Linked DNA regions of Homo sapiens: region 2 is linked to region 1. A link means that fine-mapping ties the variant in region 1 to the expression of a gene that starts in the linked region. Tissue or cell type: whole blood. Region 1 holds a variant in brackets; the other region holds the start of a gene. All regions are shown on one strand. Distances are from middle to middle.

Region 1 (5,146 bases):
ATTTGCATTTCTTTAATCATCAGTGATATGGAGCTTTTTTTTCCATATGCTTGTTGGCCTGTTGTAGGTTTTCTTTTGAGAAGTTTCTGTTCATGTACGTTGCCCACTTTTTAATGGGGTTGTTTGTTTTTCTCTTGTAAATTTAAGTTCCTTATAGACGCTGGATATTAGACCTTTGTCAGATGCATAGTTTGCAAATATTTTCTCCCATTCTGTAGGTTGTCTGTTTACTCCTTTGATACTTTCTTTTGCTATGCAGAAGCTCTTAAGTTTAATTAGAATCCGTTTGTCAATTTTTGCTTTTGTTGTAATTGCTTTTGGTATCTTTGTCATGAAATCTTTGTCCATTCCTCTGTCAGGATGGTATTGCCTACGTTGTCTTCCAGGGTTTTTGTAGTTTTGGATTTTACATCTAACTCTTTAATCCATCTTGAGTTGATTTTTGTCTGTGGTGTAAGAAGTGGTTCAGTTTCAGTCTTCTGCATATGGCTAGCCAGTTATCCCAGCACCATTTATTGAATAGGAGTCTTTTCCCCATTCTTGTTTTTGTCAGCTTGGTCAAAGATCAGATGGTCATAGATGTGTGGCCTTATTTCTGTGCTCTCTATTCCGTTCCATTGGTCTACGTGCCTGTTTTTGTACCAGTACCATGCTGTTTTGGTCACTGTAGCCTTGTGGTATAGTTTGAAGTTGGGTAATGTGATTCCTTTAGCTTTGTTCTTTTTGCTTAGGATTGCCTTGGGTATTCAGGATCTTTTTGGGTTCCATATGCATGTTAAAGTAATTTTTTTCTAGTTCTGTGAAGAATGTCTTTGGTAGTTTGATAGGAATAGCATTGAATCTGTAAGTTGTTTTGGGCAGTGTAGCCATTTTAATGATATTGATTCTTTGTATCCATAAGCATGGAATGTTTTTTCATTTGTCTGTGTCTTCTCTGATTTTTTTGAGCCATGTTTTGTAATTCTCATTATAGAGATCTTTCACCTCCCTGGTTAGCTGTATTCCTAGGTATTTTATTTGTGTGTGTGTGGCAAATTGTGAATAGGATTGTCTTTCTGATTTGGCTCTCAGTTTGGTTGTTGTTGGTATATAGGAATGCTAGTGATTTTTCTACATTGATTTTGTATCCTGCAACTTTGCTGAAGTTGTTTATCAGTTGAAGGAACTTTTGGGCCGAGACTTTGGGATTTTCTAGATATAGAATCATGTCATCTGCAAACAGAGATAGTTTGATTTCCTCTCTTCCTATTTGGATGCGCTTTATTTCTTTCTCTCGCCTGTTGCTCTCGCCAGGACTTCCAATACTACGTTGAATAGAAGTGATGAGAAAGGGCATCCCTGTCTTATGCCAGTTTTCAAGGAGAATGCCCATTCCGTACAATGTTGGCTGTGAGTTTGTCATAGATGGCTCTTATTATTTTGAGGTCTGTTCCTTCAATACCTAGTTTGTTGAGAGTTTTTAACATGAAGAGATGTTGAATTTCATCAAAAGCCTTTTTGCATATATTGAGATAATCATGTAGTTTTGCTTTTAGTTCTGTTTATGTGATGAATCACATTTATTGATTTTTATATGTTGAATCAACCTTGTATCCCGGGGAGGAAGCCTACTTGATCATGGTGGATTCGCTTTTTCATGTGCTGCTGGATTTGGTTTGCAAGTATTTTGTTGAGGATTTTTGTATCAATGTTCATCAAGGATATTGGCCTGACATTTTCTTTTTTTGTTGTGTCTCTGCCAGGTTTTGGTATCGAGATGACTCTGGCCTCATCGAATAAGTTGGGGAGAGGTCCATCCTCCTCAGTTTTTTGGAATAGTTTCTGTAGGAATGGTACCAGCTCTTCTTTGTACATCTGGTAGAATTTGGCTGTGAATCCGTCAGGTCCTGGGCTTTTTTTGGTTGGTAGGCTATTTATGACCAATTCAATTTCAGAGCTCATTATTGGTCTGTTCATGGGCCACTATTTTTTGTTCCTGGTTTTTTTTTGTTTGTTTTCTTTTG[G/T]TTTTTTTTTTTGTATTTCTTGTACTTTTCTAAAGTGTTCACATTTTTGGTTTTTGCCAGGAACATAAATTTCTCTTTCTCTCTCTCTCTTTCTTTCTTTTTGAGACAGAGTCTCGCTGTGTCACCCAGGCTGGAGTGCAGTGGCACGATCTCGGCTTACTGCAGCCTCTGTCTCCCGCATTCAAATGATTCTCCTGCCTCTGCCTCTGAACAGCTGGAATTACAGGTGCACGTCACCACACCCTGCTATTTTTTTTTTTTGTATTGTTAGTAGAGACAGGGTTTTACCATGTTGGCCAGGCTGGTCTCAAACTCCCAACCTCAAATGATCCACCCACCTCAGCCTCCCAAAGTGCTGGGATTACAGGCATGAGTCATCATGCTTGGCCAAATTATATTTCTAATCAGGAAAAAATGTTATTTTTCTGAAAGTTTTTCAAGGATTGATGGGAATCAAACACAAGTGGACAAATCCTGCATGATTCTACTTAGATGAGGTCCCTAGAGCAGTCAGACTCACAGAGACAGAAAGAAGAATGAATGGTGATTACCAGGGGCTGTGGGGAGGGCAATGGGGAGTTGTCCTGTTATGGGTACAGAAGCTCAGTTTTGCAAGACAAAAAGAATTCTGGAGCTGGATGGTGGTGATGGTCGCACAACAATGTGAATGTGATTAATGCCACTGAGCTGTACAGTTAAAAAGGATGAAACTGGTAAATTTTATGTTATATATATGTTTTATCATCATAAAAAATAGGGTGAATGGATTTTTAAAAAAGGAATTGGAGGGATGCTCCTCCAGGGAACTGGAAAGGCATGGGCCAGCTGATGGGAAGGAAGGTGTCAGGCTGAGGGACAAGGTGAGCAAGAGCCCAGATGCGTGATGGCTGTTCATGGAGACTATGAGGATAGGAGCTGGCTTTGGATATGCCTGCTTGCTTCCCCTCCTTCCCATTCCTGGGGAAGATTCTGGCCATGGGGACACTTTATAACAGGCCCCCCTGGACCTGAGCAACAATTGTCTAAAGATCCTTGGGCGGGCATGGTGGCTCACACCTGTAATCCCAGCACTTTTGGAGGGCAAGGCAGGCAGATCACTTGAGGTCAGGAGTTGGAGACCAGCCTGGCCAACATGGTGAAACCCCGTTTCTACTAAAAATACAAATATTAGGCAGGAGTGGTGACAGACACCTGTAATCCCAGCTACTCGGGAGGCTGAGGCAGGAGAATCACTTGAACTCAGGAGGCGGAGGTTGCAGTGAGCTGAGATGGTGCCACTGCACACTCCAGCCTGGGCAACAGAGTGAGACTCCCATCTTAAAAAAAAAAAAAAAATCCCACAGTGGGAGGAAACCCTAAAGAGTGGGGTTTAGAACATTCAGTGACCAGGACTGGCATATTTAGGGCAGAAGGGAACCCATTTCTTTTTCCCTCTTGTTTGTAAACAAGGGGAGAGGCAGTGAGGTCTCCAAGAAAGCCCTGTCTCTGGCCTCAGTTTCCATAGAAAGCAGTTCCAGGGACAGGAGCTGTAAGGGGCCTCTGAGCTCGGGAGGACAGCCTCATTTTGAGAAAGTGCCCAGCCAGCTGACTCAGCTGAACTGAATCAGGGCATATTAAGCAGCAAATCTCTTGGGGCACTATTTAAACCTGAGCTTGGGCTGGGTCCAGTGCCAGGATCATAAGTATTGATAAAGCTCTTATCCACTGGACACTGCACTAGCCCCAATGTCCCTTCCCCCCACAGATATTTCATACAGAAATAAAGACAAACAGGCATAACACACCAGACTTTTGTGGCTAAGGAATAGGATATCTTTGGGGCTGAATGAAATCTTGGTTGCATCATGGTGCGGGAACCCCTGTCCATCCTCCACAGATTCCTTATCACTGGATTTTCTTGCCATATGCAAAACCAGGCACCACGTGACTTCTTAGACTCTCTGGGTCGAGATATGTTGAGACTCAAGATGTGAATAGTAATCTCAAAACCAGTCAAATGTATAGTTATCCAGCTCTCAAAATACTTGGGCCTGCATCAATAGCTGCTAATTTTGCAAGATGTAATGGGAACACTGGAAAGAAAAGGTGGTTCTGCTGGCGTAAGAAATGCTGACCAAGCAAAGGTGGCAACAGTGAAACTTCTTGGGCCACATTCCCAATCTAGGGGATTTTTACGTTGGGAGTCAGTTCTTGCGCTTGTGTTTTCTACTATAAGAAGGGTCAAAACTCTGGTTGCATCAAAGAGCTAAGCTCTGTCAAGTGACCACCTTAGAAAACCAGAGGGATCGGTGGATGTGAAACAGAGAGGAAAAGCTACATCTTTGAGTGGGGGACTGAGCTCCCTACATGTCTGCATTTGGGGACCTATGCCTAGGGTCCTCCTCTCCCCACAGCAGGATGTCCTCACCTAACCCCATGGTGGCTACATACCAGTCTGGGCCTGATGCTGACAGCGGTTCCCAGTCCTTCCTGGAGGACAAATGCATCTGTACTGGTTGACTCCTTCTACACATGTACCACCATTTTGACAAGGCTGGCTGGAGCATTCACTGATACCTAGGAAGATAAATAATTTTCAAATATACGGATGTGAGTTCTAGGTCTAAAACAAATACAATAAAAAACTGATGAAGGGTTAACTTCCTTTACATTGTAGGAGAACTCCCACTTTCTACCTGACCCCACCCACTCTTTCCACCCTCTCCACCCGCAAGAGCTGCCAGGGGGCCGATGGGGCTGATATGCAGCCCTATTGCATCTCCATTCAGCAGGCCCTGCACCCAGGCACACACTGCCCACCTGGGGCTCTGCATGCAGGAGCTGGCCTATGAGCTGGCCATACCCCACCCACAGGCACCATTTTCTAATTTGCAAAGGTGCAGTGTAGACAGCTGTAGCCAGACAGAAGTGGCTACCTGTGGGCATCTGCCCACATTGCCTTTGAGTCAGGCCCTGTAACCCACAACCCTTCTGCTCCATCAGCCAGCACCTGGGAGAAACATTTTTAAACAGGAACAAAATTCAGTGCAGTTATAAAGGGGAGGGATGGCCCACTGGAATGTCCAGGGTTGGGGAAAATGAATTCTCCAAATTCCCAACCAGAAGCCCTACTGTGCTTGACCAGGTAAGAGTTTTTTGACATT
Region 2 (5,146 bases), 40 kb after region 1:
AGGGATGCTGGCCTGGAGAGAGGCAGGAGGGACACTGACCTGGAGAGAGGCGGGAGGGACACTGACCTGGAGAGAGGCGGGAGGGACACTGGCGTGGAGAGAGGCGCGCGGGACAGGGGAGAGAGGCGGGAGGGACACTGGCCTGGAGAGAGGCGGGAGGGACGCTGGCCTGGAGAGAGGCGGGAGGGACACTGGCGTGGAGAGAGGCGGGAGGGACACTGGCGTGGAGAGAGGCGGGAGGGACGCTGGCGTGGAGAGAGGCGGGAGGGACGCTGGCGTGGAGAGAGGCGGGAGGGACGCTGGCCTGGAGAGAGGCGGGAGGGACGCTGACCTGGAGAGAGGCGGGAGGGACGCTGGCCTGGAGAGAGGCGGGAGGGACACTGGCGTGGAGAGAGGCGGGAGGGACACTGGCATGGAGAGAGGCGCGCGGGACAGGGGAGAGAGGCGGGAGGGACACTGGCCTGGAGAGAGGCGGGAGGGACACTGGCGTGGAGAGAGGCGGGAGGGACACTGGCCTGGAGAGAGGCGGGAGGGACACTGGCCTGGAGAGAGGCGGGAGGGACACTGGCGTGGAGAGAGGCGGGAGGGACACTGACCTGGAGAGAGGCGGGAGGGACACTGGCGTGGAGAGAGGCGGGAGGGACGCTGGCCTGGAGAGAGGCGGGAGGGACGCTGACCTGGAGAGAGGCGGGAGGGACGCTGGCCTGGAGAGAGGCGGGAGGGACACTAGCCTGGAGAGAGGCGGGAGGGACACTGGCGTGGAGAGAGGCGGGAGGGACGCTGGCCTGGAGAGAGGCGGGAGGGACGCTGACCTGGAGAGAGGCGGGAGGGACGCTGGCCTGGAGAGAGGCGGGAGGGACACTAGCCTGGAGAGAGGCGGGAGGGACACTGACCTGGAGAGAGGCGTGAGGGACACTGGCCTGGAGAGAGGCGGGAGGGACACTGGCCTGGAGAGAGGCGGGAGGGACACTGACCTGGAGAGAGGCGGGAGGGACACTGGCGTGGAGAGAGGCGGGAGGGACGCTGGCCTGGAGAGAGGCGGGAGGGACGCTGACCTGGAGAGAGGCGGGAGGGACGCTGGCCTGGAGAGAGGCGGGAGGGACACTGACCTGGAGAGAGGCGTGAAGGACACTGGCCTGGAGAGAGGCGGGAGGGACACTGGCCTGGAGAGAGGCGGGAGGGACACTGGCGTGGAGAGAGGCGGGAGGGACACTGGCTGGCCTGGAGAGAGGCGGGAGGGACACTGGCCTGGAGAGAGGCGGGAGGGACGCTGACCTGGAGAGAGGCGGGAGGGACGCTGGCCTGGAGAGAGGCGGGAGGGACGCTGACCTGGAGAGAGGCGGGAGGGACGCTGGCCTGGAGAGAGGCGGGAGGGACGCTGGCCTGGAGAGAGGCGGGAGGGACACTGGCGTGGAGAGAGGCGCGCGGGACAGGGGACAGAGGCGGGAGGGACACTGACCTGGAGAGAGGCGGGAGGGACAGGGGAGAGAGGCGGGAGGGACAGGGGAGAGAGGCGGGAGGGACGCTGGCCTGGAGAGAGGCGGGAGGGACACTGGCCTGGAGAGAGGCGGGAGGGACACTGGCCTGGAGAGAGGCGGGAGGGACACTGACCTGGGAAGCCCGCGGCTCGGGGCAGGCGAGGATCAGGAGCAGAAGGAAGAGCGCGCGCGGAGAGCTGGGCACCATCTTGCCAGTCGGAATCCCGCTGCCTGGGAGGGGAAATAACTTTGCCTCCGCTGCCGAGTTTGTCCCAGCGATGCGGCAGCCGTCCCTGCAGGGTGCGGGGCGCCGCGCGGCCGGGGGGCGGCTGGGGCAGGGGGGGAGGCGGGAGGCCCCGAGCGCAGCGCGTCCCGCGGGGATCGGCGCCGCCCGGGCCTTGCGAGGGTCCAGGTGCGCCCGCAGCTGCCCGCACGAGACAGTCCGCGCGAGGCGGGGAGGCGCCGGCCCCTGGGCTAAGGACGAGGGAGGAGGGGCTGCCCGGCCGGGAATGCGCCCGGGAGCGCGCCCAACCCGCGACGCCGAGGACGAGCGCGGGCATCCTCGGGGCCTGGCAGGGATGGGCGGCCAGTGCCCCGCATATGTGCGGGTGACTGGAAGCCCACCCTGGGCGGGTTCACTCCCGACCGTCCTATTTCCCAACCAAGTAGACTGAGGCTCAGTCACCAAGGACAAGTGGCAGAACAGAAACCCAAACCCAGGTCTGTCCTACTTCAAAGCCCACGCGACACCCTCCTCCCGACATTCCTAGAAGGGGGCCAGGAAATGGGCTTCATAAGCTTGACGTGGGGTGGACTGAGCTCTCCATCCGAATAAACTAGTGTCCCTTTAAATAATGCAATGGGGCCGTGAGAACACGCACGCACAGTGAGTAGATACACACACAGTGATACAGTGAGGGGATCTACGTCCTTCTGATTCACTGTCCTCCTTGCTCAAGGGAAGGAGAAACTCAGTTTAAATCGGAGGTCAGGTTCTAGAACATTGCCTGCCTTGCTGAAGTCGAATCAGGAAGTGCCAGGCCGGCATGAGCAGTCTGAAGTCCCCTGCCATCAGGGCTGTGGTACAACCAGATGCCTCAGACCTGAGCTCCCGGAAGGCATGACTGACGTTCTTCCTGGAAGGTTTTCTGAAGGCAGTCACTGCAGATGTCCTGGGACACACAAGTCTGGTCAAGCCCCAGATCTCTTTTTCCTCTTCCACATTTCACTTTGTTGAGCCCACTCAGAGCTCAGGGAACGGGGAGCCCACAAGACTGTGACCACAGAGCAGGAGCTGTTTCCCAGCAGAGGCCAGAAAGGAAAGCTGGAGTCCTGGCTTAGTCCCTTCAAACTGCTATAGCAAAATACCATAAACTGAGTGGCTTATAAACAATAGAACGTGTTTCTCACAGTTCTGGAGACTGGGAGGTCCAAGATCAAGGTGTCAATAGATTAGGTGTTTGGCGAGGGCCAGAGTTCTGGTTCCCGTGTCCTCACAGGGGAAAGGCAGCTCTCTGGGGCCTCTTTTCTGAGGGCACTAATCCCAATTTTGAGGGCTCTGCACTCATGACCTAGTCACCTCCCAAAGGTCCCACCTCCTAATGCCATCATCTTGGGAATGAGGTTTCCAACATATAAATTTAGGGGAGACACCAACATTCAGAACCTAGCCAGTGCCCCAAAAAGCAGGGGACATGGTTTAGGCTGGCCTCCTGGGCATTGGTTGCCCAGGAAATCCTACAGTGCTGCTCCCCCAACCTTCCCATGCAAAGGAGGTGGAACGGGACCCATGTAAATCTTTTTTTTCTTTGAGACGGCGTCTTGCTCTGTTGCCTAGGCTGGAGTGCAGTGGCCTGATCTCAGCTCACTGCAGCCTTGCCTCCCTGGTTCAAGTAATTCTCCTGCCTCAGCCTCCCAAGCAGCTGGGGCTACAGGCATGCACCACCACGCCTAGCTAATTTTTGTATTTTTAGTAGAGACAGGTTTTCACCATGTTGGCCAGGCTTGTCTTGAACTCCTGACCTCAAATGACCCACCCGCCTCAGCCTCCCAAAGTGCTGGGATTATAGGTGTGAGCCACTGCAGCCTGCAAGGGATCCATGTAATTTTATTTTGCATTCCTGGTTGAACATCCTGAAGAGAGACATGGTCATACCCCTGCTTCTCCCTATCCAGGTGGAGAGGACGGGACAGCATGGCCCGATCCAGGGCAGCCTGTGGAGATGGTGGTTTTCTGCCTCGATCTCTCATGTGTTTGCTGTCTGTACCAAAAGCCAGTGCCCTGCTCCCTCTCTGTCTCTCTGTCCTCTGCCCTATCCTTGAAAAGCTTCCTCCTGGTCAGTGTGGCTGCATTTATTAATATTTTGTGTCCTATCCCACCTTGTGTTTACATGGCGACCTTCTCTGGAAGGCCAGCTGTTCTGGCTCTCAGCCTTGTTCTGGCTATGCGCTGGTAACCAGACATCGGGCAGATGTAAGCAAGCCTTCTTTTCTCTTCTCCTGCCCTTTCTGTGGAGTCATAAAGCTGGAAGAGATTCTTGATTTCACAGATGAAGAAGCTGAATCGGGGCATGGTTGACTGACTTGCCCAAGGAATGCAAACTCTGGTCTCAAGATCCCCCTCCCAGAGCGGTGCTGTTTCTAGGACAGACTACCTTTGACTTTATCCCACCTCTCATTTTAGGGCTACTATGTTGCTTATATTAAATACATGATCATAGCATTTCAGGAATTTTATTTACAGTAATGGGGGGTTTTCTGTTTTTTTGTTGTTGTTGTTTTTTGTTTTCTTGGGTTTTTGCTTTTGTTTTTACTTTTCAAATATTTCTAAGTTTCAACAGGATTTTTTTTCCTATGTAATTATTTATATTTGTAACCCTTTCCCTATGGCTGCCTTCCCTCTAAGTGTTCTGGCATCTGGTCTGAATGAACCTTCTAAGATCTGACTGCCCCAGCAGCACTGTCCTTTCTCTGTCTTTGTCCTCAGCTGCCCTGGATCTGCAGTAATCAAGGCAGAGCCTATCAAGTCCAGAACCTACCAAGGCTGTCTACAAGCAGACAGCCCATGAAAATCAGCTGGGTGCTCTACCTTTAAGCCCCCAACCCTCACCTTTAACTGAATACAATGGGCCTATCAGCCTTTTTTTTTTTTTTTTTTGAGACAGTCTCACTCTATTGCCCAGGCTGGAGTGCAGTGGCATGATCTCAGCTCACTGTAACCTCTGCTGCCTCACAGAGGCAATCTATTCTCCTGCCTCAGCCTCTCAAGTAGCTGGGATTACAGGCACCTGCCACCATGCCCAGCTGATTTTTGTATTTTTAGTAGAGACGGGGTTTCACCATCTTGGCCAGGCTGGTCTTGAACTCCTGACCTCGTGATCCACCCGTCTCAGCCTCCCAAAGTGCTGGGATTACAGCCATGAGCCACCATGCCTGGCCCTTATCAGCTAGTTTATTCCTCTATTTCCCCTCTATTTAGTTTTCAAGAGAATATTCCTGAGTGTCGGGGGATTGGTTTGGTGGGGTTCAACATGTCTACAGAAAGTATTTTAAACATCTTTTGGTAAGATCAGTTGCCATCTCCTTGGATTAGTGCTCTGATACATTCAGGTTCTCTGTGTAACATAGGCATGCAACACAAAATGGGAAGATTTGTTGCAGAAATTTGT

The links. PIP is the estimated chance that this variant, and not a neighbour inherited with it, causes the effect.
Region 2: it holds the start of FBLN7, and the variant in region 1 is fine-mapped to the expression of FBLN7 in whole blood (TOPMed, PIP 0.92).

What each region holds. Positions count from the first base shown.
Region 1 is chr2:112,175,127-112,180,272 of GRCh38, reverse strand. FBLN7 (fibulin 7) reads right to left here. Exons shown (of 8, transcript NM_153214.3): 4 at 4,434-4,559. Among named protein-coding and RNA genes, the nearest start is that of FBLN7, 39 kb to the right of the region's middle. The variant G/T (reference allele first, on the strand shown) is at 2,004.
Region 2 is chr2:112,135,196-112,140,341 of GRCh38, reverse strand. FBLN7 (fibulin 7) reads right to left here and starts at 1,957. Exons shown (of 8, transcript NM_153214.3): 1 at 1,612-1,957. The coding sequence starts at 1,686. RefSeq lists an enhancer at 1-140.